Linked DNA regions of Homo sapiens: all the other regions are reported to be linked to region 1. Evidence: microRNA targets listed by miRTarBase, many of them from high-throughput screens and not tested one by one. Region 1 holds a microRNA gene; each other region holds the end of a gene's coding sequence.

Region 1 (4,075 bases):
GAACCTGGGTGAGTGAGCCCTAATCTGGACCCCCATTCCCTGCCTTTTGGGACTGTCTTTTCTCGTTTTTATGTTGGTATACTTGCTTCATATTGGGAAGCTTTACTGCCATCCTAACCCTTGCTTTCAGGTTTCTGGAAGGGGAGGATGGGGAAGACACAGCAAAGATATGCCAGGCTGACATTGTGGAGGCTGTGGACATTGCAAGTGCAGCCAAGGTGAGCCTGAGGAGGTAAAGGAGCCAAGGGATTGATTGGTGGTGCAGGACAATAGAGGAATGGGGGCTAGAAGAAGGCGTTACTGCAGGGCACTCTTTTTTTTCACTCTTCTCTTTCCCAGCACTTTGACTTGAATCTGCGGCAGTTTGGACCCTACAGACTAAACTACTCTCGAACTGGAAGGTAAGGTTGAATTCTAGTGACTCTTGAACTAAGATGTGTTTCCTTAACCACTTCAGCCATTCCCAGTGTATGTTTGGGTTGCTGATGAGGGGAGGGTCCTTCGATTTGCTTGGGTGTGAGGGTAAGCACCTACAGCAACATGTGTCTGCCCGCCTGGAGAGATGGGGCTGGCGTGGGGCAGACCTCAAGTTGTCTGAGTCGGTGGTCCCCTGCCTTAACACCCTGCCTGCCCCTCACCTCCAACAGACACCTGGCTTTTGGAGGGCGCCGAGGTCATGTGGCTGCCCTTGATTGGGTAACAAAGAAGCTTATGTGCGAGATCAACGTCATGGAGGCGGTGCGGGACATCCGGTCAGTGGCCTCACTGTCAGCGGTCAGTTGGGGTGAGATAGTCCATTCCTGATTGAATGATAGCCTGTGACCTCATTTCCCAATTGAACCACTCTTCCTCTCCCCCAGGTTTCTCCATTCTGAGGCACTGCTTGCTGTTGCTCAGAACCGCTGGCTCCACATCTATGACAATCAGGGCATTGAGCTCCACTGTATCCGCCGCTGTGACCGAGTAACACGGCTTGAGTTCCTGCCCTTCCACTTCCTCCTGGCTACAGCTGTGAGTGGCCATGGAGCTCAGGAACTGGTTGGAAGCCCTTGGGATGACCACCTCTCCTTTAGGACCCCAGCAGAGGGAATACAGAGGGCAATCAGGACTGGGTCATTCTCTCTGTCTTTCTCTCTCAGTCAGAAACAGGGTTTCTAACCTACCTGGATGTGTCAGTGGGGAAGATTGTGGCAGCTCTGAATGCTCGAGCTGGGCGGCTCGATGTTATGAGTCAGAACCCTTACAATGCCGTCATCCATCTCGGACACAGCAATGGTCAGTACCTGGCTTAGTTTTGACTCTGACCATCCTGACTTGCTTTTCTTCTATATTTGTACTTCATGAGTCCCTTAAAGTTACCCTTTTATTTCCCTTTTTTGTTATCTCTTGGTCTTGAGTTCCCATCTTTCCCATGTTTAGTAACCTCAGGCTTAGGTGTGTATTAGCAACTTTGGTTCTTCTTCTCTTCCAGGTACTGTGTCTTTATGGAGTCCAGCTATGAAGGAGCCACTGGCAAAGATTCTCTGTCATCGTGGTGGGGTCCGGGCTGTGGCAGTAGATTCTACAGGCACGTAAGTCACTGGTGGGGTGAGGTGTTAGGAGTCATAGGTGGGCAGAAAGGTGTGGAAGGCAGTGTGCTTTAGGAGCACAGAGTCTAAAGCCAGGATGCCCAGGTTTAAATCGCAGTGTTACCACGGATGGGCCTTGCAAGTATAGGCATATTTCATAACCTCTGTGTGCCACAGTTTCCTGACCCCGAAAATGGAAATATGAGTGTCCATTTCAAGGGTCCACAAACTTTTTCTGTAAAGAGTCAGATAGTAAATATTTTATGATTTGCTGATAAGAGGTAAAATCAAAGGGTACCATGTAGGCATTTAAATACCAAGAGAAAACAAATTATCACAACTTTTTTTTTTGAGATGGAGTCTCGCTCTGACACCCAGGCTGGAGTGCAATGGCGCAATCTCAGCTCACTGCAACCTCCACCTCTCAGGTTCAAGTGATTCTCCTGCCTTGGCCTCTCGAGTATCTGGGACTACAGGCGCCTGCTACAACACCTGGCTAATTTTTGTATTTTTAGTAGAGACAGGGTTTCAGCATGTTGTTCAGGCTGGTCTCGAATTCCTGACCTCAAGTGATCTGCCCGCCTCAGCCTCCCAAAGTGCTGGGATTATAGGCGTGAGCCACTGCGCCTGACCTTTTTTTTTTTAAATCTTTTGAGAGAGACGTAGTCTTGCTCTGTCTCCCAGGTTGGAGTGCAGTGGCGTGATCTCGGCTCACTGCAACCTCCGCCTCCCAGATTCAAGCGATTCTCCTGCCTCAGTCTCCCAAGTAGCTGGGATTACAGGCACCTGCCATCATGCCCAGCTAATTTTGTATTTTTTTGTAGAGACGGGGTTTTACTGTGTTGGCCAGGCTGGTCTTGAACTCCTGACCTCAGATGATCTGCCCGCCTCGGCCTCCCAAAGTGTTGGGATTACAGGCGTGAGCCACTGCGCCTGGCCCACACATTTTTAGGTTATAAAATTAAACGTAATATGGCCAGGTGCGGTGGCTCACGCCTGTAATCCCAGCACTTTGGAGGCCAAGGCGGGTGGATCGCCTGAGGTCAGGAGTTTGAGACCAGCCTGGCCAACATGGCGAAACTCTGTCTCTACTAAAAATTCACAAAATTAGCCGGGTGTCGTGGCGGGGGCCTGTAATTCCGGCAACTTGGGAGGCTGAGGCAGGAGAATTGCTTGAACCTGGGAGGCAGGGGTTGCAGTGAGCCAAGACTGTGCCATTGCACTCCAACCTGGGCAACAAGAGCAAAACTCCGTCTCAAAAACAAACAAACAAACAAAACATAATATGAGACTGGACACAGTGGCTCATGCCTGTAATCTTAACAGTTTGGTAGGCTGAGGTGGGCAGATCACTTGAGCCCAGAAGTTCGAAACAAGCCATGTCACCCATGACATGGCAAAACTCTGTCTCTACAGAAGATAGAAAAATTAGCCGGGTGTGGTGGTGCATGCCTGTAGTCCCAGCTACTCAGGAGGCTGAGGTGATCCTCCCACCTCAGCCCAGGAGGTTAAGGCTGCAGTGAGCTGTGATCATGCCACTGCACTCTAGCATGGGCAACAGAGTGAGACCCGGTCTCAGAAAAAAAAAATAATAATAATCAAATATATTTGTGTAATACAGATCTACTAATGGGAAGAACTGAATTTCTCTTTTTGAGGTTAACATTTTGCCTAATTGATGTACAAAGTTAGTGTTCCAGATGGTCAAATTTGACTGTAGATATTCATGTTCATGCTGATCTGTAGAGATTGCAAGTATTTCATCTTTGAAAACATCTTTTCACACAGGTAATGATAGGTGATATGTGAGGTGCTTGAAATGCTGTGAAGCACTTACGACTGTGTCACTGTGACTTGTAGTGTACAAAGCAGCAGTGCAAATCAGGATGCTGTAGTCGCTGTCGTGACCACTCGGCTGTGTGTTGTAGAGCAAAAGCAGCCACAGTATTAAGTAAATAGTGTGGCCCCGTTCCAATAAAACTTTATTTGTTGGATATTGGAATTTGAATTTCATACGGTTTTCACAGTCTCAAAATATTCTTTTGATTTTTTTTCAACCACTTAAAAATGTAAAAACCATTCTTGGCTTGTGGGCTATACAGAACTAGATGATGGGCCAGGTTTGGCCCATGGGCAGTAGTTTACCAAGCCTTGGTTTAAAGCCCTCATATAAGCTGTTGTAGACATTAAGATGAGTTAAGGCATATAGTTTAGCACAGCGCTTAGCAAAATAGGGAGCGCTGTGTTCATCATTGTCATTCAAGATGATCGTTCTCTCCAGGTCTGGCTGATGTGAGGGGTGGAGGTGGTGTCTGCTTTGGATTTCTGCTGTTCCTGAGGGAGTATCTGCATTTTCCACAGCTTTTCTGTCTGATTTGTATTTTCCTCTGATTCCTTTTGTCATCAGGTATTCACTGGGCACCTGCTGTGGGCAGGGCTCTGCGCTGAGGTTCTGGAGACAAAAGGATGAATCGTTGAGCCTGCCCTGGTGTGGTGCTCCCGTTATC
Region 2 (4,075 bases), not on the chromosome of region 1:
AATAAGGTTTAATAAAACATCAGCAATCTGCATGAGAAGGTAAATTACAATGAGAAACTTAAAAAGCTTACGGTCTAAGTCAACCAATGTAGAAGGTAGTGGTTGAAGAAAACAAGCTTTGACTTTTAAAATTTCCTAACCAGGGGATTTATTTAGAAATTCTGGCATTCAAATGTACATGTAAAATCCAATTTAACAGATCAAAATTGTTACACTAAGTTTCACTTAGTATCTAAGTATCCAATCACAATTGTATCTAAGTTTCACTTTTAAGAAACATTATAAAGGTAATTAAAACTCTAGGTGTATACTTATATGGAACTAGTTTATTTCCTATTTAACTACTGTTCATTGCGTAAAGTATGTTGTCCCAATTTTCAGCTGTTTTAAGGAATTATAAAACATTGAGATCTACTAGGAAGAGGGAAAGCCTACTTCTAAGTGATGCCACTAGTACAATCAGGCTTGGATTAAGTCTCTTCTCAGGGGCAGCTTTGATTTAGCCATGGACTCACAAGGAAAACAAGAGGTGGATTTGGTTAGGGAGCAACAGCAAATTCAGCCCGACCATATTCCTAATCTAAACACATTTTCAGCATAAAGATGTAAAAACAATTTTTTTTGGTTCAAAAGTTATGGTTGCCATGGAGACAAAAAGAATATACCTGAATTTATAAACTGAGATATATTTCAGCTCCTTGGCTTAAAATAATACATCTTTATATTCTTGAGACATATCTCAAGATGTTCCTTGCTTTGCCTTGAATAAAAATTTTTTTGAAAAGCCTATGTTTCTCGTGAACACACTCATACTTCAAATTTACCACCTATTTTAAGCTTTAAAATTCTTCTTGCCAGCATTTTTCAGCTAAAAAAAATCATTTCACGAATGTTTAGGTACTTTTTACAATGAAGGGATATGGCAGCATGGATACTGGGTAGCTGGCTAGGCTCTAAATACCTGATGACTCAACGCTTTGCACAAACCAGTCTTGCTGATTATTAAAATTTGTCCCTGGGCAAAATTAAAGCAATGCATGTTAAGGCTTCAAATGCAAAGGATTCACTGTAGTTGATTCTTTCAAGAATAGAAATCGACCATAACTTTGCTTTATAATCCATGTGATACACCACATTATAACAGATATCTACTGTGTTTCATGATTTCTGAATGTCATAACATTTGGATTAAATTGTATACAAAAAAATCACTAACCTGAAAAAAATCAGAGGAAAGAACAATATAAATTAGTGACACTGGAATTACAGAATCATTTTCTCCTAAGAAACAAAGTTTTATTTATTTCAAGTCGTGTTGCCAAGCAAATATTTGTAAAGAACACATTTTTATGACTGGAGGCTGTTTAAGTGGTTTTAAGAGTGCTTGAATAATTTTTAAACATGATAAATTTCCATCCTTTAAATTTAATGACCAATATTAATTAGCTTAAGTAGTGATTATTTTTTCACATTTAGTCTTTAAAAAAAAAAAAAAGGATTCCTATTAACCAACATACTTAGTCTTGACCTGGATGAATTTACAAAAGCCAGACAATGGGATACAGATTAATGTGGTTTAATACTGAGATTAATCAACATTGCCCTTTTTCCCTGCCAAAGGCTTATTTTCTAGACCTGCTTCACTATGACTACTAAAAGTGTACAACTAAAATTTTATTAGAAATCGCTCAGCTTACACACTCCAATCAGGAAGTTATTTAAATCACCTCAGATAAAACCTTTGTGACCTAACCTAATACATCATATGCAGATCATGAATACTTTCAGAAAAGAATCATTTCAATATGTCAAGGACATAGTATCTATGTGAATAAAATGTGTGCTTAAATGTCTCACTGTAAGGAAAAAAAAAATCAGTCAGGCTTCATATCAATTAGACAACTTTTACTAAATGAGAAAACTACATTTAAAATGTGCTTTAAAACAAAACGGAATTAGAAAAAAAGACATATGCATTTTAAAGAACTTTTGCACTGTGCTGAAAATGAAATATCTCTTGCAGTAAGTAATACAATGTGCCAATTCATAAAATGTAAGTTAACAGGTTTCTCAATTTAACATTTTCAAAGACGATATTAAGGTCAAAAATGTCACATCTATGGTAGCACATATAGAAGGGCATTATAGATATGATGTCCATCCCTATGAAGCTTACAAATTTGACAATGCTCAATAAAAGCTTTTAGAATCACATCCAATAGTGTCACAGTCAAAGAATCACAAATCTGTGTCCTGTAAGTTCTCTCCTTCTAAAATCTTCATGTTAACTTTTCTACTCATTGCCATTTGTTAATACTAACCCTTAAAAAAAAGAAATAGGAAAAGAAAGGCTGCAATAAACTTGATCAGGTACAGAAATTATTGCTACTATACTTCACTACAAAGCTTGTCTATACAGTATCATATGACCTTTGATTATGAAAAAATCAGAATAAAAATCTTTAGTGACATAAGCCTTACAATCGTATACAACATTCACATGGCAATATTAGACAGTTAAGCACCCAATACCCATAGTTGACAAAATGTCCCACTGACCAGCATTCATTTAAATACATCCTTCGTATAGAGGGAGGAAAAAGAGACAGTGTCAGCTTTCCAAGGCTTGTCAAAAAAGGATTCTCATGTACTGTGGATCTAAAAACAAACAACAACTCAAAAAAAAAAAAAAAAAAAAAAAGAAAGAAAAAAGAAAAAGAAAACCAATGCAGGTGAAGGTGTTACCAGGAAGTTAAGCATGCCAAAAGGTGTTCCGTGCGAATGAAAACCTAAAGCCAAGGTACCACATAATCACATTACCAACTAGTTGGGTAATACTATATGAGCCTTATCTTAAATGAAATGCTACTGCACAATAGAGCATCAATAAGTTAAAAATTAGAGTGCACAAATCCAAATCAGTGTCAATTCCTGTATAAAGCAAAATATTCACTATCAGCTGTAAAGTTTGCCCAGTCAAACTGTATGATTAAAATCACTGGATTGGACAATGTGCGTATTTTTTTTTAAAACAATCAATCTCTAAAATTCCTTTTTAATGTAATGAGGCGAAAGTTTTCTTAGTAAGATTAAACAGATATCTAAGTAGATAAACAAGGGAAAATAATAGTTGGTGAATGTCTGTAAAGCTCTTCCCATATTTCACTTTTAAAAATGTTTAGGGAAAAAAATTAGAAGTATTTGCCATTATTCTAGTGAAAACAAACAAAAACAAAACAAGCTCAAAATAATTAAACAACCAAGCAACACTAAAACCACATTACACAGATGGATCATCATGCTTTCATCTGGTTTAACTATCACATCTAGTTTAACTGGGATGCTTTTCAACTTTAAAAATTGTGATACATGAAGATGTAACTTTAATGGATAATTTTGAATTTGGATTTAACTTTGTTGACTATAACAGAGTATACTTATTACAATACAGTGTAGCACATCTTTCTATTAGAAAAAAATTTAAGATCCTTTACCCGTCTCCTTAAGTTAAAGGTGTGACATCATAAAGGGTGTCAAATGGCTGGATGGTTTTACAGTGCACACTTATATATTATGAAGTATGTCCTTAACAAATCTGATGGTTTCTTTACAGAATTCCTTTCTTCACCTTTTCTTCGGCGGATTAGCTGTTCGAGGTGGAGTGACAGGACGTCCAGAATTCAGTCCACCATACTGGTATTTAGCTTTCTTTTCAGATGGTTTCAATATCTTAAAGTAAATTATTAACAAATAATGTTATTTTTTCATGTACAGAAGTTAAGAAAATTGTTACAATTGTGATTTTCAATAAATGGCATAAACTGCAAAAATGCAATAAAAATGTAGAATAGCAAAGTTCCATAAACATTTCTTAAAGTGTGCAAATGTCTGAACTTTGTCATTCCACTCATATTTTAATAACAAAAGTACACTAACTCTATCAACTATCCAATCCTTAGATTTAAGTAAAAAACTTTTTGAACTTAGTGTATCTCTGTTGTGAGGAAAAGAACACTGGTTTAAGAGTCAGAAGATCTATGTTGTCATCATAATTCTGATACAGTAACTTAGGAGG
Region 3 (4,075 bases), not on the chromosome of region 1:
AAAAAAAAAAAAAAAAAAAAAAGAACCGCACGAGGCCGTCAAAAGACCCAGGCCACCCCGAGAGATGGGGACGCAGAGGCCCTCAGGCGCCCATGGTCCTCCTGGATTCTTAGTCAAGGTGCAGAGGCCTTGCTGGGACTGTGGGGAGCCCAGCATCTGTGGGGAAGTCGGGCCACTGGGCCTAGCGCCGTCTATGAGGGCAGGGAACACAGCTGAGGGGGCAGGGACTTCAGTTCCCCAGGCTGGGGCTCTGTCCTGACCTACGCCAGAGGGGCTGCTTGTGGAGCCCCTCTGAACCTCAGTCTCTTCTTCGAGTAAAAAGGCCCCCAGCTACGAATCCAGCAGGGCTGCTCAGGAGGGGGGTGCTTTTTTTGTGTTTTTTTTTTGAGACGGAGTCTCGCTCTTGTCACCCAGGCTGGAGTGCAGTGGCACGATCTCGGCTCACGGCAACCTCCCCTGTTCAAGCAATTCTCCTGCCTCAGCTTCCCTAGTAGCTGGGATTACTGGCATGAGCCACCACGCCCAGCTATTTTTGTATTTTTAGTAGAGACAGGGTTTTGCCACGTTAGCCAGGCTGGTCTCGAACTCCTGACCTCAGGTGATGCCCCCGCCTCAGCCTCCCAAAGTGCTGGGATTACAGGCGCGAGCCACGGCGCCTGGCCAAGATGGGGGTGTTTAAGGACAAATCTGGATAAAGGGCCCCCAAAGGACAGCGTGGCACCTAACGCTGCTGGGTGTGTGAAAGCTCAGGGTGCGCGGCCTCACGGCGCCTCCCACCGCCGCCTCCCGCCACCCCCTTCACGTCCTTTTCTCCCTGGCTTGTAGATAGGGAAACGGAGGTACGGAAAGCTTAAAATCGCGCCTCAGGAATGGCGGGGGTTTAGGCTGGAATTGGAACCTGAGTTCCCTCAGCAGTGCTCTCCACCACACTCACCACCTCATCGGGGAAAACTGAGGCCCCAGCAGGGTGGAGGCTGGATCGCCCATGAGCTGGGGGCACTGTGGAGACGTCCCACGCCCAGGCTGAGGCTGGCCTCCCACTCAGGGCTCCGAAGGCCTATTTTATTTTATTTGAGACAGAGTCTCGCTCTGTCGCCCAGGTTGGAGTGCAGTGGCACGATCTCAGCTCACTGCAGCCTCCGCCTCCCAGGTTCAAGCGATTCTCCTGCCTCAGCCTCCTGAATAGCTAGGATTACAGGCGTGAGCCACCACGCCCGGCTAAGTTTTTGTATTTTTAGTAGAGACAGGGTTTCAGTATGTTGGCCAGGATGGTATCGATCTCTTGACCTTGTGATCCGCCCACCTCGGCCTCCCAAAGTACTAGGATTGCAGGTGTGAAACACCGTGCCCGGCCACGAAGGCTTATTTTACAGATGGGAAAACTGAGGCCCAGAGGAGGCAGCGACTTCTCCAAGACTACAGCGTGAGAGAGTGGGGCTGGCGGGGCAGCACCTTCCCGTGAGCATGACACTGGTCTCTACAGACACCTCCTCCCCAGGCCTCCTGTGTATTTCCCAGGGGCCGGCTTCTCTACAGAGCTTGTGGGTGTCCAGGGGACCCTCTGTCATCACCCAGGGGCTGTGAGCCCAGCAAAGGGAGGAACAAAGGACAGGACGGGGCGGCCGCAGAACCCGAGGGCCCCCCGGGAAGCCAGTCCTGCCCCCCCACAGCAGCCCCTTACAGCCAGGCCTTACCTGCACAGTGGGGATTCCAGCGCCTCCCACCACCCCAAGGCGCTCAGGGTGAGCGGGTGCAGGCAGGTGAAGCCAGCACACCGCAACCCTGCTCAGCCTCCCTTTAATGGCTCAAAGGCCGGCAGGCCCCACCCCCTGGCCTGGCCACGCCTTCCTCGCCAGGTTGAAAGGCAAGAACTCCAGGAACTGGGGCTGTTCACGCTGTTTATTTGCTTCTCTGGGAAAATCAAGAACATCGGGGGCCTCGTCACACACCAGAAGCAGAGGGGGTTATAGCAAGGGCACTTCAGCGAAGGCTCGCGGCTCGAGGGACTCAGGCAGACTCCAGGGAGGAGGAGGGGGTTCCACGGCTGACGCCCAGGTCACCCCCGAGAGGGCCTCTCCTCCCAGCCACCCAGGGGCAGAGCGGAGGCAGGGACCCAGGCTCCCATCCGAGGTGGCCCCTGTACCTGCCCTGCCGAGGCTGCAGGTGGTGACTGGACCAGGAGGTGGCCTGAGCACTGGGCACCAGGCTGGAGGTCCCTAGGGCAGGGACCAAGTTGGGGCCTGGTTGTCCAAAGCCAACGTGTGAGACGGTGTCTGTGAGAATGTGCACGAATGTGCCTCTGGGGACGAGTGTAGCTGCCCCCAGGAGGGAAGCCCCTTGCCACTTCCAATGAGAGGGGGCTGGGGGCAGGCTCACATTGGTCTGGGTGGCAAATGAGGGTCTCCTGCTCCAACCCAAGAGGCTTCCTGTCCCAGGCTGTGTCCCTCCCTCCACTGCCCGGACGTGCTCCAAGCCCAGTAGAGCTGGCAGGTGGGGCCTGATCTCGGGGTATGGTTGGGAAGACCCAGGACCCTGGTCCAAGCAGGATGGAGAAGAGGCCGGGGGCGGCCCCTGGGGTCCCCAAATTAGCACCAGGAGGAAGGAGGGCCCAGTGGGGGCGGGAGCTCGGGACAAGGAGTGGCTCACTCGGTCCCTGCCCTGTGCAGGGGGCAGGTCAATGACCCCTGGTTCGCCCCGTCTAGAAGATAGCCCAGGGGTTACCGGCCCCTCCCGGGTGGGGGCATGTCCCCGGGGTTCCCCCTCCCCCAGACTCCATTGTCCACTGGTTGGGCCCACACAGGGCATAGGGGCACAGCAGAGGGGCCTGTCCTCCACCCAAGACCTTTAGCCCCCAAAGAGGCACGGCCTCACCCCAACTGCCTGAGATTGGGGGGCCAGCGCCTTGGCCAGGGAACCCCATAGAGCCTCACTTCCAGGGCCTGAGCAGGCCTCAGTACCCACCCCCGGCTCCCGGGGCCCTCTCTGGCGGGGTGTCCCCTCAGAGAAAGGCACAGGTAGGAGGCCCAGAGGGTGGCAGGCTGGCCTGGGCCGCGTGGAGGCTGCGGGTCCCACCCGCCAGGACCCCGGTGGGCGCGAGCCGCGTCTGTGAAGCTGCCGTGACATGGGGGGTCCTTGTCTCGGGAAAAGCGGGTCTGTCCTGTCTCTCTCCTACCAGGCACAAGTGCACGGCTCTGGTTCGGGGGGAGTGTTGGGGCGTGGTGACGGGTGGGGGCCCCTGTCCCTCTTTCCAGCGAAAGAAAACTCGGAAGGAACATGTAACAACACGCCAAGTCCTGGACCCGTGAGGCTGTGGGTGGAGGGTGGGCAGGCGCCGGGAGGGGCCGGGCTGGTGGGTGTCTGTGGTGTGGGGTGGGGGCCGGGGTCTCGGGGGCCGGCTCACATGATGGAGCAGCATTTACAACGGTGCTTCTTCATGTCGAGGTCCTGGGGGTCGCTGGTGGTGGCCTCGGGCCCCGCCTGATTCTCTTCCCTGGAGGCGGCCTCCGTGGGAGGCTCGGCAGCACTGCCGTTGGGTGGTGCAGGCTCCTTGGGCTCAGCCGCGTCTTCGATGACCACCAGCTCCGCCGTGATGGTATCTTGAAGGCCCAGCACCTTCTTGGTCTCGGCCTCATCCTCCACGTTCTGGTAACCCATGAAGATCATTGTGACCGGGGGCTCCTGGCCGGGCTGGATCCCCGGCGGGCCGGACGTGGCCTCGCCTGGCTGTGCCTGCACACCGGTGATCTCCCGCCGGGAGGGCGTGGTCCGGGCTGCCCCCTCCACAGCCCCCCGGGTCTCTGCCGCCCCGGCCGTGGACCCTGCCTCGCTCAGCGTGACCTCGTCCGCTTTGTGGATGAGTTCGTCCACCTCGGAGGAGCTCAGGGGGTGGATCCCGTTCTCGGCGGTGCCGTCCACAGCATGGACCACTGTACAAGGAGAGACAGAGAGAATGACCCAGCTCCAGGCAGGAGGGACAGAGAGAGTGACCTGGCTCAGGCAGGAGGGAAACCTTGGCAAGGCTTGTATCCTCCTCCAGGCTAAAGAGGAAATCACGAACTAGATTACACCGTCAGAA
Region 4 (4,075 bases), not on the chromosome of region 1:
TCCTCCACTCCCGACAGGTGCAAGACTTCGGGCTGAAGCACCTCCTGGCCCTGGGGAGTTTGCGCCTCCTGTCTCTGGCAGGTGAGACCCCCGTTTCTGCTCTGACGCTGGCAGTGACCACCCACCCCCACTTAGTCCACCCGCCCAACCTGCCCGGTCCTTGTGCAAACTCACACCCGGCGCGGACACACAGTCCCGGGTCCGAGGCGGAGGAGGAGGGAGGCGCGGCCCGGCCGTCCCCGCCCGAGCCCTGGGCCGCGCGCACTGAGCCGCCCTCTGACCCCGCCGCAGGCTGCCCGCTGCTCACCACCACCGGGCTGTCGGGCCTGGTGCAGCTGCAGGAGCTGGAGGAGCTGGAGCTGACCAACTGCCCCGGGGCCACCCCCGAGCTCTTCAAGTATTTCTCGCAGCACCTGCCCCGCTGCCTCGTCATTGAGTAGCGCGAGGCCCCCGCCCCGGTCGCGGGAACCCGGCCATGACCTGGGCGGGGGCGCGGGGCGCCGCCGAGCCCCCTCTTCCCGCCTTGCGCTCGGGGGAGCCCCCGCGCCCCCGGCCCAGCGCGGGAGGCGGGGCGAGCCGAGGGAAAGCCCCTCCCCGACCTTCGGTCCCTCCGCCCTCCCAGCCCCGCCCCGGGCAGGGGGGCGGCGGGTGGGCCCGCCCCACGCACGCACGCACACTCGGGGACTTTGTGCATGCCCCTCGTGCCCGCACTGCACGCCGCCCTCCGCCACGCCACAGCCACAGCCGCCGCCATCACTCGCTCGCCCTCCCGCTTGGGGGGCGGGGCTCGGTCCTTGGGGGGGCTTTGAGCTCTCCAGACTGTGCCCTTACCGCCTTCCCCGCCACACCCGCTCTGTCTTCCCACTGTCCCCCCCATCCCGGGCAGGGCCCAGTGGGATTGAGGGGGCTGGGTCCCCCAGGACACGGGCCCAGAAGAGCCCCACGGGCTTCCTGCATCTTCCACCGCACCATACCTGGAGCCCTCCGAGGGGTGTCAGGGGAAACAGGCCACCGCCAAAGCCATGGCCCGCCGCCGAGAGCCCAGGCCCCACCCGCACCTCCTCACCCATCCAGCCTGACCCACGCGGCCTCTCCTCCTCCTTGCCGCTGTGTGGGGCAGTCCCCTGTCCGCCCCAAAACCCGGCCTTGGTCCCTGGCCAGGCTGAGAGAATTGGGCAGGGAGAGGGCGGAAGGGCTGGCGATCGCTTGGAGTCATTAACGTGATCCCAGCTGACTCCGGTCGGCCTCAACCCAGGGGTGGCGCAGGCACCTTGCAAGCCTCGAGCTGTAGCCACCCTCAGGCCTGGGAAGAGGCCTGGGCCGACCTCACACCTCAGCCCTTGCACCCGGCCGGGCTCAGTTCAGGCCTGGGCACCGAGCTTCACCCTGGGTGGGTCTCCTCAGGTGGAGTCTGCAGAGTGGACCCAGCCAAGGGTCAGGGTCAGCACTGGGTCAGCGACTCCAATCTTCCAGTGGCCAGCACACCCTAGACACCCCGAGGAGGGAGGGCTCCTTTCTAGCCTGCCCCCCCACCCCCACTTCACCCCTCCCCAGCTTCCCAAACTTCTGTCTGCCCAAATGGGCTCTGACCGTGCTCTGTCGGCCCGAGACATTTGGAAGTCCTGGGGGATGCTGGCAAATCTCAGCTGTTGCTGAGGAGGGGGCTGGGACCCCTTCCCATCCCAACCTTGAGCCCCAGGAGATACCGCGCCCACACCCAATCTTGGGACACTCCCTATCTGGTTGGAAGAGAGTAACCAGTTTCCAGAGAGCCAGAGAGTGAGAGAGAGAAAGAGAGTGAGAGAGAGAGAGAAAGAGAGAGAGAGATGCTGTTGAATCAGAAACAGATCAACAGCCCAAAGATTTTCCTGTCCCTGGAGTGCCAGCCCCAGGAAGCTCCAGGGCTGAGTGGTCAGGAGCCAGTTTCTCCAGCCCCTCCTCCCCACAACCCCTAGTGGGGAGGGGCAGCTGTCCATTTGCCCAAAGTATTAATGCAACTGAAGCTGTGATATTTCCAACGACTGTAGGAGGAAAAATTAAGGGGAGAGAGGAAAACAAAACCAACCAACCCCTAAAATCATTTTCTTATTGTACATAACGACCTCATTCTCCTGTATATGCGGAAGATATAACCTTATATTTGGTAAGTGTTTCTTGTGCTATTTTATCACGTGACCTGTTTATAAAAATATATATTAAAAAAGTTGTAAAAACATGTGTCTGAGTTGTTTTTAGGTCCCCAGACAGCGGTGTAGGTGGGCATATCTGCCCTGCGCATCCCAGGTCTCGGGATTCTCCTGTACCTCTTATCAGATTTATTCTTTCTTGCAACAAAGGGGTAGAGGCTGGATGCCGACATGGTAGAATGGAAACAGCAGTGACTACATGGAAGGCAGAGGACCTCCCATTCCTTAAAGGGAGAGACAACACTGAAGTCACTACACATAATATTCCCTCCAACATATCCAGACTCTAGCCCACCCTTCCAGAGAGGCAGAAATAAACCCTGTTCTATACACAGTAACAGGCAAGGACAAGGATGTCGCAAAAGATTACAAAATGCACCAATAGCAGACAATGGCTCACACCCAGGAGAGACAGAGAGGTCGAAAAAGGCAACTGAGGCTGGGCACAGTGGCTCACGCCTGTAATCCTAGCACTTAGGCCGAAGCGGGTGGATCACCTGAGGTCAGGCGTTCAAGACCAGCCTGGCCAACATGGTGAAACCCTGTCTCTACTAAAAATACAAAAAATTAACAGGGTGTGGTGGTGGTTGCCTATAATCCCAGCTACTAGGGAGGCTGAGGCTGAATCGCTTGAACCTAGGGGGTGGAGGTTGCTATGAGCCGAGACTGCGCCACCTCACTCCAACCTGGGCGAAAGAGCAAAACTCCGTCTCAAAAAATTTTAAAGAGACCGGGTGCGGTGGCTCACACCTGTAATCCTAGCACTTTGGGAGGCCAAGGCGAGTGGATCACCTGAGGTTGGGAGTTCGAGACCAGCCTGACCAACATGGAAAAACTCCATCTCTACTAAAAATACAAAATTAGCCCAGTATGGTGGCCCATGCCTGTAATCCCAGCTACTCGGGAAGCTGAGGCAGGAGAATCGCTTGAACCCAGGAGGCGGAGGTTGCGGTGAGCCAAGATTGCACCATTGCACTCCAGCCTGGGCAACAAGAGCGAAACTCCGTCTCAAAAAGTTTTTTAAAAAAAAGAACGAGAGCAACTGGTTGAACAGGTGTGTCAGGCACTGGGCATTCGGTGGGGATTGAGCCAGAATGTGATTCCTGCCTTGGTGGAATTCACACTCGTATGTGACCGACAACAACCAGTAAACAAACGAATGGGTGGTGACAAGTGCCGTGGAGGCCACAGTGATGGAGAAGCCCATTAGGGCAGTGGTCAGGGAGGTCCGCTCTGTGGAGGAGGCATCGCACGCACGTACAATGTCCCTGAGGCAGGAAAGGGCTTGGTGGGCTGGGAATGGGGGTGGAGGCTGCCATGGCTGGAGGTGGGCAGGGGAAGGCGGAGGCCAGGAGTTGGGGTTCATTCACAGCATAGTGGGAGCTGCCAGAGGCCTCAGGCAGAAGACCTGGTGCCTGACTTCTGTGCGGGTTTCTGATCAAAGGGGAAAGACGGACCCAGGAAAGCCGTTGGGAGGCTGCTCCCGAGGTCGAGGAGTGAGGAAGGAGGGGAAGACTGGGGGCACTCGGAACTTGTCTAGGGATGACCAGATGTCATGATGGACCTGGGGATTAAAATAGGTGATGGCATTAAAATACTGAAATTGAGACTTAAAAAACAGGCCAGGCGCGGTGGCTCACACCTGCATTCCCAGCACTTCAGGAGGCTGACGCCAGAGGATCGCTTGAGTTCAGTAGTTTTAAGACCAGCCTGGCCAACACGGTGAAACCCCGTGTCTACCAAAAATACAAAATTAGCCAAATTAGCCGGGCGTGGTGGCGGGCGCCTGTAGTGCCAGCTACTTGGGAGGCTGAGGCGGGAGAATCGCTTGAACCTGGGAGGTGGAGGTTGCAATGAGCCAAGGTCGCGCCACTGTACTCCAGCCTGGG
Region 5 (4,068 bases), not on the chromosome of region 1:
AGATACCAGCACCTGCCCTGGTGGAGGTAGCAGGGGAGTGAAGTGGGCTCTGTGAGTGTCCTTGCTTGTAATTTTGTTTAGTGTGCTGGTTTTCTCAAATGCTGGTTATGCTAGCAGTGAAGTTGTCATGTGGACAGATTCAGGACCTCTGGCTAGCCAGGATATTACAGGCAGTGGAATTAGCTGTTGTTTTCTTTTTCTCTAGGGGCAGGGTTGTTCTGTTATGAGTTGCTGTAATGGCTTGAGTGGGTTGGCCTCCAGCCAAGAGGTGGCGCTACAAAGAGGGCAATAGCTGCCACAGTATAGGGAGGATACAAGCTTGCCCTAAGGTTGCCTGGGTAAGTATTTCTGTTTCTTAAGTGATGGGTGGGGCCGTAGAGCTCCCACGAGATTATGTCTTTTGTCTTTGAATACCAGGGCAGGTAGAGAAAGACCATCAGGTGGGGCAGGGTTAGGCATGTCTGAGCTCAGATTCTCCTTGGGCAGAGCTTGTTATGGCTGCTGTGAGTGATGGGGTGTGCTTCTCAGGCTTATGGAGATACATTCCCAGGGGGATTATGTCTGCTTCTGCTGTGTCATACAGGACACCAGGAAGGTGAGGGAAAGCTGGCAGTGACAGGTCTCATCCAGCTTCCATGCAGCCAAGAAGGCCAGTCTCACTCCCACCATGCTCCCCCAACATCCAACAGAGCCGATTTTATATCCATGCCTGTAGTGCACAGGACTGAGATCTTGCCGCAGGTTACAAGCCTCCCTATTGAGAAAGCAAGCAGGGCTTTCAGGCCATGCCCCTCCCCTCCCCGTCATGGCTTCTGTGCTCCTACCTGCACTTCCCATTTCCCCTTCTCCCTGCCCTGGATGCTGTCCAGGAAAACTCACGATCAGTCAGCATTATTACAAAGTTCAGCTGGAAGTCTCCTCCCTGTGGCCCTTCCCCACTTCCACTGGCTGCCCTCCCCAGGGACCCCTGTGAGATTAAAGTCAGAAATGGCTTCCCTGGGTTTCCCTGGGGACCAGGAGTGCCTGCAGGGCTCTTCCCACTGCTTCTACTACTTTTATATTTCACTCGGCTCTCTAAATTTATTTCAGCTCTAGATACTGTTAAATCCTTCCCCTCTGATCTGGATTTTTGGGTTCCCCAGTGAGGATGTGTGTTTGGAGATGCTTTCCCCTCTTACATTTCGGGTGCTCACAGTTTTTTGGCTGTCTCACAGTGTTTGCAGTGACAAGCCACTTTGTTCAAAGGGTCTGTGAATTCTTTTGGTTTTCCTGGTATGTTCCTGTGGTGGTTCTTGGAGAAAAAGCTCACAATGTGAGTCTCCACATGCTGTTCTATCCATCCAAGTGGAAACTGCACATTAGTCCTGCTTCTTACCCACCATTTTCCCTCTGAAAAAAAAAAAATAGCCAGCTTCTTCCTTTTAGGTTGACATTCTTACTTTTGGAAATCAGTGCTAATGAAACCCAAGTGTTCCTTATGGAAATGTAGTTTGAAGAGTGAGGCTCCCTTGGACCTCCCAGCCTTGTCTAGCTTCTGTGTGACTGTGACGCATGGGTGAGCCCAGGTGAGACACACAGAGGAACAACACAGACTTCCCACAGAATCCAGAGAAAGAATACATCTGCTGTTTTAAGCCATTAAGTTTTGGGGTGATTGTTACACAACAATAGATAACTGGAACATATTCCCAAATTCCACGTTTGGAGGATTGCAAGCAATCGATCAATGTCAGCCTTTCCATGATCATCTGGTTTGCTTCAGGCCAGATCTGCTGCCTTTTGAATTAGAGATACCTTTTTCCAAGTTTTTGGTCATTGCTCGAGTTTTGTGTTCAGAATGCACATGTCTATTTTCTTACTTGCTGTAATGGAACAAATTATGCCCCCACCCTCAAATTCATATGCTGATGCCTTAACTCCCAATGTGACTGCATTTGGAGGTAGGGTCTTTAAAGAGGTGATCAAGCTTAAATGAAGCCCTAAGGGTGGGGACCTGATTCAAGAGGACTGGGATCCTTGTAAGAGAAAAGAGAGAGGCCAAGCATAGGCCTGGTGAGAAGGTGGCAGTCTGCAAGCCAAGGAGAGAAACCTCAGGAGAAACCAAACTAGCAACACTTTGATCTCAGACACTTCCAGCCTCTGGAGGTGGGAGGAAATAAATTTCTGTAGCTTAAGCCACCCAGCATGTGATATTTGTTATGGCAGCTATAGCAGACTAATACACTAGCATTTGAACACAAATCAAAGAGACCTCTGCAAGAGAGCTCTTGGGGATGCTGGTCAAGCTGTGATTTTTGACTTGAACTTTCTTTTCCAACATCTTTTACAGCAAATGAAGAAAGAAATTCACGTAATCTTTCTCGTCTGTACCCCTGAACAAAGCTGAATGTTTTTGAGGCACTCTTTCCATCTCAAACTTGGGTTTTAAAACAAATCAGCAATGATATTTATTCTATTGCCTTTTTATTAAGGAATCTATATGTTCATCATTTGAAACATACAGGAAAACATGAAGAAGAAAAGAAAATTACCCATAATGATGATCACTGGTGTGAAGTTCTCTCTCTCTCTCTCTGTGTATGTGTGTGTGTGTGTGTGTGTGTATTCAGAGACAGAGTCTCACTCTCACTCTGTCACCCAGGCTGTAGTACATGGTGCAGTCATGGCTCACTGCAGCCTCAAAATCCTGGGCTCAAGGGATCCTCCTGCTCCAGCCACCTGAGTGGCTGGGACTACAGGTGTGCACCACCATGTCTGGCTACTTACAAACAAATTTTTTTAGAGACAGGGTCTCCCTGTGTTGCCCAGTCTGGTCTTGAACTCCTGGGCTCAAGTGATCCTTCTGCTTCAGTCTCCAGAGTCACTGGGATTACAGGTATGAGTCACTGAACCTGGCTACGTTTTTAAAAAGTTTCTTTGCTTTATTAAATTCCTCTTCAAGACTTAACAGAACAATGGAAGCTCATCATAATCAGGGAAACAAGAAGAAAAGAGAATCACTCAGGCTCCTTTCTGGCGGGGGAGTGGAGAGGCTGGGAAACACAATGACAGTGAACCATGGGAAGCAGGGGGCATGGCCACTGGATCTGAAAGGGACCGGCTAACAGTCACTAAATGTCCAAGGCCTGGGCTTGAGCAATAGCCTCAGGTATCTCCATCACTTACACAGCACTCATTCGTTCAGTGAGATGTCATTTATTAAGCAGTTACAATGCTGCAGGTGCTGTGCAGGAGACTGGACATACAAAAGAAGAATTTGACCCAGACCTTCCCCCTCTGGGGTCTCATAATCTTGTAGGGGGAAGGGAATACAAATACAAATTAGCGAAGAATGATAGCAGTATCTTAGGACACTGTAACTGTGTGCTACGGGACCCAAGGACTGGAGAGCCATCCCTTCGTGAAGGTCAGGGAAGAGCTGGGTGGTGGAGAGAGCTGAGCCTGTGTGGACCCCTGATGCATGCTCTGATGCTGAGGGAGTACAGTAGAGATGGACACTGATAGTGACAGAAGAGTTTGGCCCCAAAGCAGAAGCGGCATCCTGCACCGACTCCCCTTAGAATGAATGAGTACGCACAAGAAAACAACCACAGGCATCGCCGCCCTTCAGTGGATCTCTTTGCTGGAGAATTGACAGAGTGCGTGTCGCGCCTGAGTGAGCCGGTAAATTCTCTCCTTAAGGATTCTTCTCTTGGTAGCGGTCTCACTCTGCTCTTGAAGCAGCCAGGAATAGCGATTTTTTTCCTGTAGTATCTGCATCATGGCTTTCTGCAAGGAGTCACCATTCTCTCGGAGCATAAAATACTGAATTATAAATGGGATCTGGTTGGCGAGACGTTTGCTGGTTTCCTGGAAGAGGGAGAAAGAAGGGTTTGCTGGAGTGGTCTCAGCCCAAGGCCTGTGGTTGCAGAGAGAAGGCATGGAGTTCCTGGATGCGCACATGGTTGCCTGGCGAAGCCCTGGTGGTCTCGCCCACCTCCACTCCGGTGGTCAGCATCAAGCCCCGTGAAGGTTCTATTTGCGCTGACCCCTCTTTACTTCCAGGCATCCCCTCTAGCACTAAGAAGC
Region 6 (4,000 bases), not on the chromosome of region 1:
GAGCTGAATCAAGGGATGGCAGGCTGGTGAAAGTAGGAGTGACAGGGTAGTTAGCCCCACGGGTGTTAAATTGGAGGGGGGTCAATTTGGTGGGGAAGAAGCCTCTGACTTTTAGAAGGGTGACTTTTCCCTAGAAAATAACAGAACCCCTGGGGATCAAATCCTGAAGTCTCTCTGGTTTATGGTTCTACAAAACAAAGGGGACTTTGAGGGTGTGCCCAGAAAAGAAGAGGGAAAAAGAGAGGAAAAAAGAGCACCTTTCCTATTTTCTCTTCCAGCTCCTGAATCTATTTCCTCCCGACAGTTGAGGGATTTGTATTCTTGAGCTGATTTTATTTGAGGAGGGCTTGCCAGAGTTCTACTTAAACACCTAACACCTCTAGGCAAGAGAAGAAGCTCTTCCCTTCCCCCACTCCTGGTTCAGGAATTAGGTTTTGAATTGGGGGAATTGCCCTCTCTGTCTGCTCCCTAGTCTGACTTCAGGATCCTACTTCGAGCCAAGGAGAAAGATTAGCTTGAGACCAACAGGCTGAAGGTGGAGGCAAAAGCAGCGCTGTGCTCCCCATCCCAGAGAAGCCTGATGAAGCCAAAGATAACCGGAGGGACCTCTTTTTATGGGCTTCAAAGATCGGAAAGCCAGAGATCACCCCAGGGCAAGGTAGCCCACAGCAGCCGCCTACCCGGTGCTTTTTCTCAGCTCAGATGTATCCAGATAAAAGTGCCCAGCGGTGCACCCCCACACACCTCCGACAAATGAATGTCATAAAGTTTCTTTCCGGAGGATGGGGGGATAGTTGTCTGAAGATATCCAGCAGTGAAGTGGCCCCCACCAATGGCCCCTTCTTTCAGCAATATACACCCCTCCTTCCTGGTCCCTAAATTTCCGCTGGCACTGAGGGAGCATGGATCCCCCACACAAACCCTTTTCCCCACAAAGTCAGACACTCCTGTTGGTAAAAATCAGGCACCCCCGACCGATGAGGCCTTAAGAAACTGAGAGCACTCATTTCAGGCACCCAGTCCCTTAGAACTGGGTGCATAAAACAGGCTAAATTTCCCCTACATCACCCCACAGCCCCAGGTGGAAACAAGTTTTCTTCCCCCAGTCCCAGGCCCCAGAATTGCAAGGGGTAAAAGCGAAAGCTGAAAGCGACTTACTGCGGGAATGCTGGCCTGGGCCGCCGCTGCCTTCTGGGCTGGTCCGGCTGCTCCAGGCTGGGAGAGTGCTCACCTACCTCTGCCCCCTTCCCCACCACAGCGAGCAGTTAAAGTGTCACTTAACATTCTGGAGAATGTGAAATATACTGCGCGGTGTCAACTCCCCAAAACCATAAAACTAACTTTATGGACCTCACGTGACTTTCTCGAGCCAGTGAGGGGTATCTGTCTGACTTCTCGGCGATTTTTACGATCTAACTTCGAGATAAAACCCCTATCCATTTGACATCTAAATGTCATAGCGACTTTTGGGATAGTTTGCTATCGACAAAGGGAGACAAAGTCAAGGGGTGAAGGGAAAGGAGGGCCAAGTAGAGCCTCCACGACCCTCGGCTTCCTCCTCACCAGCTCCCCCTCCCTCCAAGTCCAGTAAGAAGTTGGGCCAAGCTGGAAGGGATTGACCGGGTAAGTGTCCAGACTTGACTCTTGTGCTCAGGGTGGAGGCTGACTTGGATGGAGGTAGACTGGGCCCTAGCCCTGGGCCAGGCTGAAAGGGAACCAGGGGTCTTTCTGAAAGGACCCTAACTCCTAATCAAGAGGGAAGATCAGTTGGGCCCTTGGAGAGAAGGAGCCCTTGATAAGGGTAGGGAAGGCTGAGGGTGAGAGAAATCCTTTGAAATCCAGCTGAATTTTTTTTTTTTTTTTTTTTGCTTTAGTTGGTGGCAGAGCTGAATTGGGACTTGGAGTAGGAGACAGGGGGCTGGGCAGGCCTCTACCACTCCCAAAAGGCCAGGAGCCTCCTGCTGAGGACTTAGGCCCAAATTACTTTCCCAGAAGAGTTTTCCAGAGGCTTCCTTGGCCAGCTAGTGGAAGACCAGGATGAAGTCTAGCTCAGCCTTTCCTCTGCCCCAGCCCCACATGGGGTTTCTGGGCCTTGGAGTCCCCCAGGCATGAAGGTCTGTTCCCTGGCCCAAGCACTGTTGACCAAGCCAGTGACTTACATGGCTGAGAAGAGTTGTTGGGGAGCAGCCTACTTTTTCTTCCCTGCACCCCAGATCTATTGAGAATGGTGCAGGGTGTGCCCGGGATGGGAGAGGCAGACCCCTCGGAGAAAAGACAAGTGGAAGGGCAATGGAGTGGGGGAAACATTTATTTGACTTCCAGGAAAGCTACAAACAAATACCAAAAGCGAATCACTGAGACAGGCCCCGCAAAGACAGATTTCACACGTAGCACAGCATCCACTCGCTCACTACAAATGGTCTTGGAAGCAAGATGGGTAAGGGAGAGATGGGTCTGACCCAGACTATCCCCATATTTACAAGCTTTGGGCCCTCTAGCCAGACCCATGGATTCACAGAGAAATACACAAGACATTTTGCACTGAGGATCATTTTTGTTTCCGTATACTCCCAGACCAGGCCTTGTGGGGCCTACCCAGGCAGCAGGAACTTAAATCTCACTATCTTCTTTCTCTCTTCTCAATACCATCCCTTTGGTCCTCCCTAGCCCCTTCCCACCCTAGGACCAAGCCCCTAGGAGACTTGGGCCTAGGGAGTGAGGAGGGAGGAGGAGGAGAATGAAAAGGGACTCCATCTCCGAAGCCAGCTCAGCTTGACCCCACTGCGGCACTACCCCACCTCAACTGCTGCCCCTTACAGAAGTTTCCAGCTGAAACTCAAAATACAGCGATCATCTTTTTATAAATAAGTTAGAACACAGATGGGGAGGGGAGAGTTCACATTAAACATGCGAATTTCTTTTTTTTTTTTTCCTGGGGGAAAGACTGCAACCACAGACACAAACATTCAGAAACACTGGCGGATTTGGGACAAGCAGAAGGGAGTTGGGAGCATGGAAGGAAAATAATAATAATAATTATTATTAACAATAATAACAAGATAACCAGTCCAGGAGAGAGGGAGCCACAGGAAGACCTAAGACCAAACGAAATATCGTAACACAAGGCGAGGCAGGCTTGTGGGAACCGGTCCCCAGCGGGCGGCGGCAGAGCGGGGAGGATTGGAGGGGCCAGGGCTGGGGGTGGCACGGGCTCTTGGGCCGCTGGGCTCCTCTGGGCGGGCTCAGGGCTGGAAGGCGCTGCCAGCTGTAGCCAGGCTCATACTTTTCAATTTGTTGTCCTTCTTCCACTTCATGCGCCGGTTCTGGAACCAGATCTTGATCTGGCGCTCGGACAGGCAGAGTGCGTGGGCGATCTCGATGCGCCGTCGCCGGGTCAGGTAGCGGTTGAAGTGGAACTCCTTTTCCAGCTCCAGGGTCTGGTAGCGGGTATACGCGGTCCGGGCCCTTTTCCCGTCCGGCCCGGTCATATCTGGAGCAGATAGAGGAAAGCCGCAAGGCAACATTATTCCGGTTAAGGGAGGGGGCACTGGGTGGGAGGGGGCGGGGGAGCAGGACCCAGGCGTCCCGGCACCCAGCTCACCACAGCTCCAATCCTCTCTACTCCAGATGCCCACATTCAAGCTCGATTTCTGCACCCCTTTCTACTGCATCCCCCACTTCTGCAGGCAGCCAGTGCGCCCGGCTTTGTCTCTTGCTCGCTCCTAGTGCCTCACCCTTGGCTGGGCTCAGGCGGCCGCTCGCCCCGGGAGGGAGGAGAGCGGTTGCACTTTTGCCCCGGAAAGCTCCTTTTACTGTTCACCCCTTCTTTGCTAGCGACAGTCTCAAAATTTCAGGGGTAAGCAGGACCCTTCCCCACATTATATGAACCCCATCCTTTATCCTAAAGCTGGTTCAGCTGCGCTAATAAAAACCTAAGCCGAAGCTGGAAACAAATTATTAAAAATACCCCCCTCTTAACAGAGAGACCCTTTTTGGCTCT
Region 7 (4,067 bases), not on the chromosome of region 1:
GGACATGAAATCATCTTAGCTTAGCTTTCTGTCTGTGAATGTCTATATAGTGTATTGTGTGTTTTAACAAATGATTTACACTGACTGTTGCTGTAAAAGTGAATTTGGAAATAAAGTTATTACTCTGATTAAATAAGGTCTCCATTCATGGATTCCAAGGACAAGAAAGTCATATAGAATGTCTATTTTTTAAGTTCTTTCCCACGCACCCTTAGATAATTTAGCTCAGAACAGGAAATGATAGTATTAATAAAAGCTGGACATCAGGATTAACAGCTCTCTCTGGGGCCCTGAAGGTGAGAGTTCTCAGACTTGCTCATTTGCAGTTGCTTCTTTGTGATGCTGGCAAACCATCCTAGTCCCATTCAAAGGGCAATACAAAGCCTTGTGGCTGACCTCACGATGCAGCACTCAGTTTGCAAGACCGGCACCAGTGTATGCAAACCTGAGAAGGTTGGGGATGAGGATATGGGATCTTTCATCCCTGGAAATTTAGTCCAGAGGCCTGGGGCTGGAGCAGAACACCAAGCCAATCAGCTTAATGAATGGCTTAGATTCCTGCTAGGTTTGCAGAGCTGCCTTCTTTCCTTTGGTACCTTATTATAGATTGAGGAGTATTTCTGCTAAACCAAGATAGGGATAACCAGATAGCATCTTCATAGCAATGCCACAAAGGAAAACAAAAACAAAACAGTAATCCATCATATTATTCCTTAGTAACTATGCCAAGGTCATGATACTGAATCCTTAGATTGTTTCAAAATACTACTTTTCTTTGCTCTTCCTGATGTGTTTGCCACCGCAGGCAGATGTTTAAGTAAAACAGATTTTAACTGCAGCTACAAAAGCAGCAACAGGCCAGCAAAAGAGAAGTGCTATCTCAGAGAGCATGGCTTTCAGAGCCACAAGAGACAGCCTCACTGGCTGTTTCAGCTTGACTGCCATGCAAAGAAGAGAGCAGAGGGAGAACCAGCCCCACCCACTTATTCATCTTGTACAAAAAAAAAGCACCTACCAGCCTAGGCTACATAGTGAGACACTATCTCCACAAAAAACCCACGAAAACTAGCTGGGTATGGTGGCACATGCCTACAGTCCCAGCTACTGGTAAGGCTGTGGTGGGAGGATCTCTTGAGGCCAGGAAGGAGATCCAGGCTGCAGTGAGCCAAGATTGCACCACTGCACTCCAGTCTGGACAATCGAGCAAGATCCCATCTCAAACAATAAAAAAAAAAAGCGTGTAACCTCCTCAGAAGAAAGATGTTATAATCTCAGGCAGCAGGCAAGAACCAATCCAGGCTCTAAGCAAATTATGTATCTCACTGACCCCACCAAACCTCAGAAAAATTTAACAGTGAGAAGCAAAATCTCCTTTAAAGAGCAACTTAGAACAGATAGAAAATATCATACAGCTGACTTCACTAGAGAGAAAGTGCATCAACTGCTTTCACTCAACAAAAAGAAAAAAGAGATGATCAATGCAGATCCCCTCTCCTCCTGGCAGCCCTTACCCTCAGTGAAAAGCCACCACCATTCTCTCTCTGGTGGCCATCAGATCAACCTGCGGCGTTCCCACAAGACAGAATGGAGATTTTCCAAGGTATAGAGCAAGTCAGAGTACCCCAAAGAACGGCGGCAGAGAGCCAGCTCCGAAACTGCCAACACTACCATGCATACACAGTTCAGTAAGTCAAGAAAGGCCTGGTACACAGCATTCTGTAACTTTTTTTTTTATTTTTTTCAATTTTTCCTTCTTTTTTTTTTTTAAGCACTAGTCTGTGCTTTGCGAACAGAATCAAGACATTAACAAAGATCAGCTTCTCTGAAGAAAAGCATTTCTATAGAACAAAGACAGCTACATGTTTCGCTGCCATTACACAGCTCCAAAGCAGGAAAAGAAAATATTTACAAAATACAAGGTTTTTTTTTTCCATTTTTTGTTTTTGTTTTTTTTTTCAATGCTAAAAGGGTTATTCAGAATTTTCAACCTTATAAATAGAAGAAGCACTTTATGCATAGGGATATGGTGCATTATTGTATTTTTTTTTAAAGAAACAATGACAAACCCTTTAACTTGCAAACAGAAAAAAAAATCACTAATGTTGAAAATTGTGAAAAAACCCCAACCATTAAGCAGTTGTCTACTATTTTTATACGATTACAAAATGGCCAAAAAAAAAGAGTCTTCTCCCCCCTCCCCCTTTTTGGTGATGTGATCATACAGGAGACAGGCACAAGGTTAACAGAGAAGGGTGAAGGGGGAACAATGGGAACCACAGCTAGGACCAGACAATGTTCCACAGGCAAGGGGAGCGTGAAAGACCAAGAGTGGAACTAACACCGACAGGGATCTGGATGTGAAGGAAACATGGCAAAGTGAATCAGAGGGAAAAAAAAAAAAAATCACACAGGGAGATGGCTGCTCACTTCCCACAACCCCCAGTTTGCAGGGGAGTGGGAATAGAGGTTAAGTAGTCCTAACCCTACCTTCAAAGATCAGGATAGGTGGTAAAAATATTCCAAGTGGAAGGACGGGTTGTGGGTGTGTACATGGCATGGGAGAGCAGACAGGGAAGGGTACCAAGGGGCATGAGGAGGGGAACCTGAGCAGCCACAGCCAGGTTACTGCAGTGAAAGAGTCAAAACAGAGAAGACCAAATGCAGATGAAACAAAAAATCAGTCTCTTAAGTTCTGGGTGAGAAAGGAAAGGTGTTCTGCCAGCTGAGCACTCGGGGAGAGCAGCTGGCAGTTATGGCAGAGAGGCTCTGGTGGGGATGTTCCAGCACGAAAAACCAAGGGGACCCAGCCAGGAGGGCCACAGCAGAGCCAAGCCACAGATGGGAGGGGAGGGGGTAAGAGTCCAGAGCACCCTGCCCCATTCCACCCTAGCTCAAGAAGGCCATGCTAAACTGTAGCCCGCCAGGCTGTTCTGCCCTGCCCACAGGTGTGAGGGAGGGGGTGGTCATCTAAGATCAGTAAGTCCAGTGATTCAACAGTGCAGAGGATGTGCCAGGACCAGGCCAGCAGGGTCTCATCCTGAACTTCTGTTTGCCAACGGGAGGAAGTGCTCAGGTGTGTGACAAGAAAACATGGAAACAAAAACAAAACAAAAATTAAAACAAGAAAAAAAAATACCAAAGTAGGATCTAAATTCCTTAAGTTCACTAAAAACTGTGAAAATTTCCGGCATATGATGTTTGAATATCAAACGCAGAGATTTCTGAAGCTTTAATGCCAATAGTTAGTGAGTCTGTTTAGATGGCTGTCTCCCGCTCATCTGTGAGTCGGGCGCTGAGCTGTGGCTGCTGCCACCAGATGCCGACTCTTGAGGGGGACAATGGGAGGCGAGGTGGGCGCTGCCTCTGTCTCCCGGCCAGTCTTGCTGCCTGAGGTGCGTCGAGTGCAGCGGGCTGCTCGCTCCTGTGCATCCAGCTGGTCCTCACACTCCGCCTGGGGACTGTGCGCCAGGGGGAAGGTCCGCCGCTCCCAGGGCTGGACAGACTGTAGGCAGACAAGTTGCTCTTTGAGGACCCAGTCCCAGCCAGCCTGCTTCCTGCTCCAAGGCCCTGCCACAAACCTTGTGGCCTGGAGCCTAGGACCAGTCTATCTAGTGTTCCTGCGACAGTCTGGGAACACCCCTCCTAGGGTATACCCAGACAACTGTATTGATCATTTAGCAGTGATCAATACAGTTCCACTGAACGTTGAGGAGATCAATTTAAGTGCAGCCCTTTGTCCCTTCAAAAGGGGGAGGGGATGGCTAGGTCCCTCTTCAGCAGATGCTGCCCCTTCCTGGTTCCATCCCCCAACCATGCCAACCCCACCCAAAGGCTGCGTCCCTTACCTGTTCATCCAGCCCCAGCTCTGGTGTGGAACAACGGGTATCCTCACTGGCTAAGTGTCGCGGAGTGTCCCGAGCCACAGGGGTGAGGGGTGCTGAGTGCAGTTCCGGGCTAATGGGGCTCCTAGGGGACTGACCATGGGAGTATTCTGACAAAGAGTGGCTACTGCTGACATCAGGGGAGGCAGGCTGGGGGGTGGAGGGGTTGGCACTGCCCAGCTGGGG

What was found. Region 1 holds the annotated microRNA hsa-miR-6873-3p (UUCUCUCUGUCUUUCUCUCUCAG, at 1,117-1,139, shown strand). A microRNA usually pairs through its seed, bases 2 to 8, with sites in the 3' UTR of a target mRNA and lowers its output. Matches are read on the target gene's strand: a 7mer-m8 pairs with bases 2 to 8, a 7mer-A1 pairs with bases 2 to 7 and ends in A, and an 8mer does both.
Region 2: miRTarBase lists PPP1CB as a target of hsa-miR-6873-3p. Seed matches in the 3' UTR shown: 7mer-A1 at 2,261-2,267.
Region 3: the mRNA of PALM is a reported target of hsa-miR-6873-3p. Seed matches in the 3' UTR shown: 7mer-m8 at 3,161-3,167.
Region 4: the mRNA of FBXL16 is a reported target of hsa-miR-6873-3p. Seed matches in the 3' UTR shown: 7mer-A1 at 1,165-1,171, 7mer-m8 at 1,783-1,789, 8mer at 1,785-1,792, 7mer-m8 at 1,801-1,807, 7mer-m8 at 1,803-1,809, 7mer-m8 at 1,805-1,811 and 5 more.
Region 5: miRTarBase lists MX2 as a target of hsa-miR-6873-3p. Seed matches in the 3' UTR shown: 7mer-m8 at 2,569-2,575, 7mer-m8 at 2,567-2,573, 7mer-m8 at 2,565-2,571, 7mer-m8 at 2,563-2,569, 7mer-m8 at 2,561-2,567 and 8mer at 2,558-2,565.
Region 6: the mRNA of HOXB5 is a reported target of hsa-miR-6873-3p. Seed matches in the 3' UTR shown: 8mer at 2,630-2,637.
Region 7: miRTarBase lists KANSL1 as a target of hsa-miR-6873-3p. The part of its 3' UTR that is shown has no 7-base or 8-base seed match.

Annotation. Positions count from the first base shown.
Region 1 is chr6:33,284,291-33,288,365 of GRCh38, reverse strand. It overlaps MIR6873 (microRNA 6873), which reads left to right and starts at 1,077; the gene lies at 1,077-1,139. WDR46 (WD repeat domain 46) reads left to right here. Exons shown (of 15, transcript NM_005452.6): 4 at 1-8; 5 at 131-218; 6 at 340-401; 7 at 648-752; 8 at 861-1,011; 9 at 1,140-1,275; 10 at 1,472-1,571. RefSeq lists enhancers at 67-600, 601-1,134.
Region 2 is chr2:28,798,853-28,802,927 of GRCh38, reverse strand. It overlaps PPP1CB (protein phosphatase 1 catalytic subunit beta), which reads right to left. Exons shown (of 8, transcript NM_002709.3): 8 at 1-3,729. The coding sequence ends at 3,625. Among named protein-coding and RNA genes, the nearest start is that of SPDYA, 9.9 kb to the left of the region's middle.
Region 3 is chr19:746,136-750,210 of GRCh38, reverse strand. It overlaps PALM (paralemmin), which reads right to left. Exons shown (of 9, transcript NM_002579.3): 9 at 1,882-3,926. The coding sequence ends at 3,397. It also overlaps a transcript of MISP not described here. Among named protein-coding and RNA genes, the nearest start is that of MISP, 2.9 kb to the left of the region's middle.
Region 4 is chr16:690,640-694,714 of GRCh38, reverse strand. FBXL16 (F-box and leucine rich repeat protein 16) reads left to right here. Exons shown (of 6, transcript NM_153350.4): 5 at 18-81; 6 at 292-2,215. The coding sequence ends at 440. Among named protein-coding and RNA genes, the nearest start is that of WDR24, 2.3 kb to the right of the region's middle. RefSeq lists an enhancer at 3,889-4,075.
Region 5 is chr21:41,407,772-41,411,839 of GRCh38, reverse strand. It overlaps MX2 (MX dynamin like GTPase 2), which reads right to left. Exons shown (of 14, transcript NM_002463.2): 14 at 2,447-3,849. The coding sequence ends at 3,607. Among named protein-coding and RNA genes, the nearest start is that of MX1, 16 kb to the left of the region's middle.
Region 6 is chr17:48,588,967-48,592,966 of GRCh38, forward strand. HOXB5 (homeobox B5) reads right to left here. Exons shown (of 2, transcript NM_002147.4): 2 at 2,291-3,490. The coding sequence ends at 3,243. HOXB3 (homeobox B3) reads right to left here and starts at 1,275. Exons shown (of 5, transcript NM_001384749.1): 1 at 1,159-1,275. It overlaps HOXB-AS3 (HOXB cluster antisense RNA 3), which reads left to right and starts at 1,454. Exons shown (of 3, transcript NR_033201.2): 1 at 1,454-1,623.
Region 7 is chr17:46,028,202-46,032,268 of GRCh38, forward strand. It overlaps KANSL1 (KAT8 regulatory NSL complex subunit 1), which reads right to left. Exons shown (of 15, transcript NM_015443.4): 14 at 3,846-4,067; 15 at 1,715-3,502. The coding sequence ends at 3,275. It overlaps MAPT (microtubule associated protein tau), which reads left to right. Exons shown (of 13, transcript NM_001377265.1): 13 at 1-133. Among named protein-coding and RNA genes, the nearest start is that of STH, 31 kb to the left of the region's middle.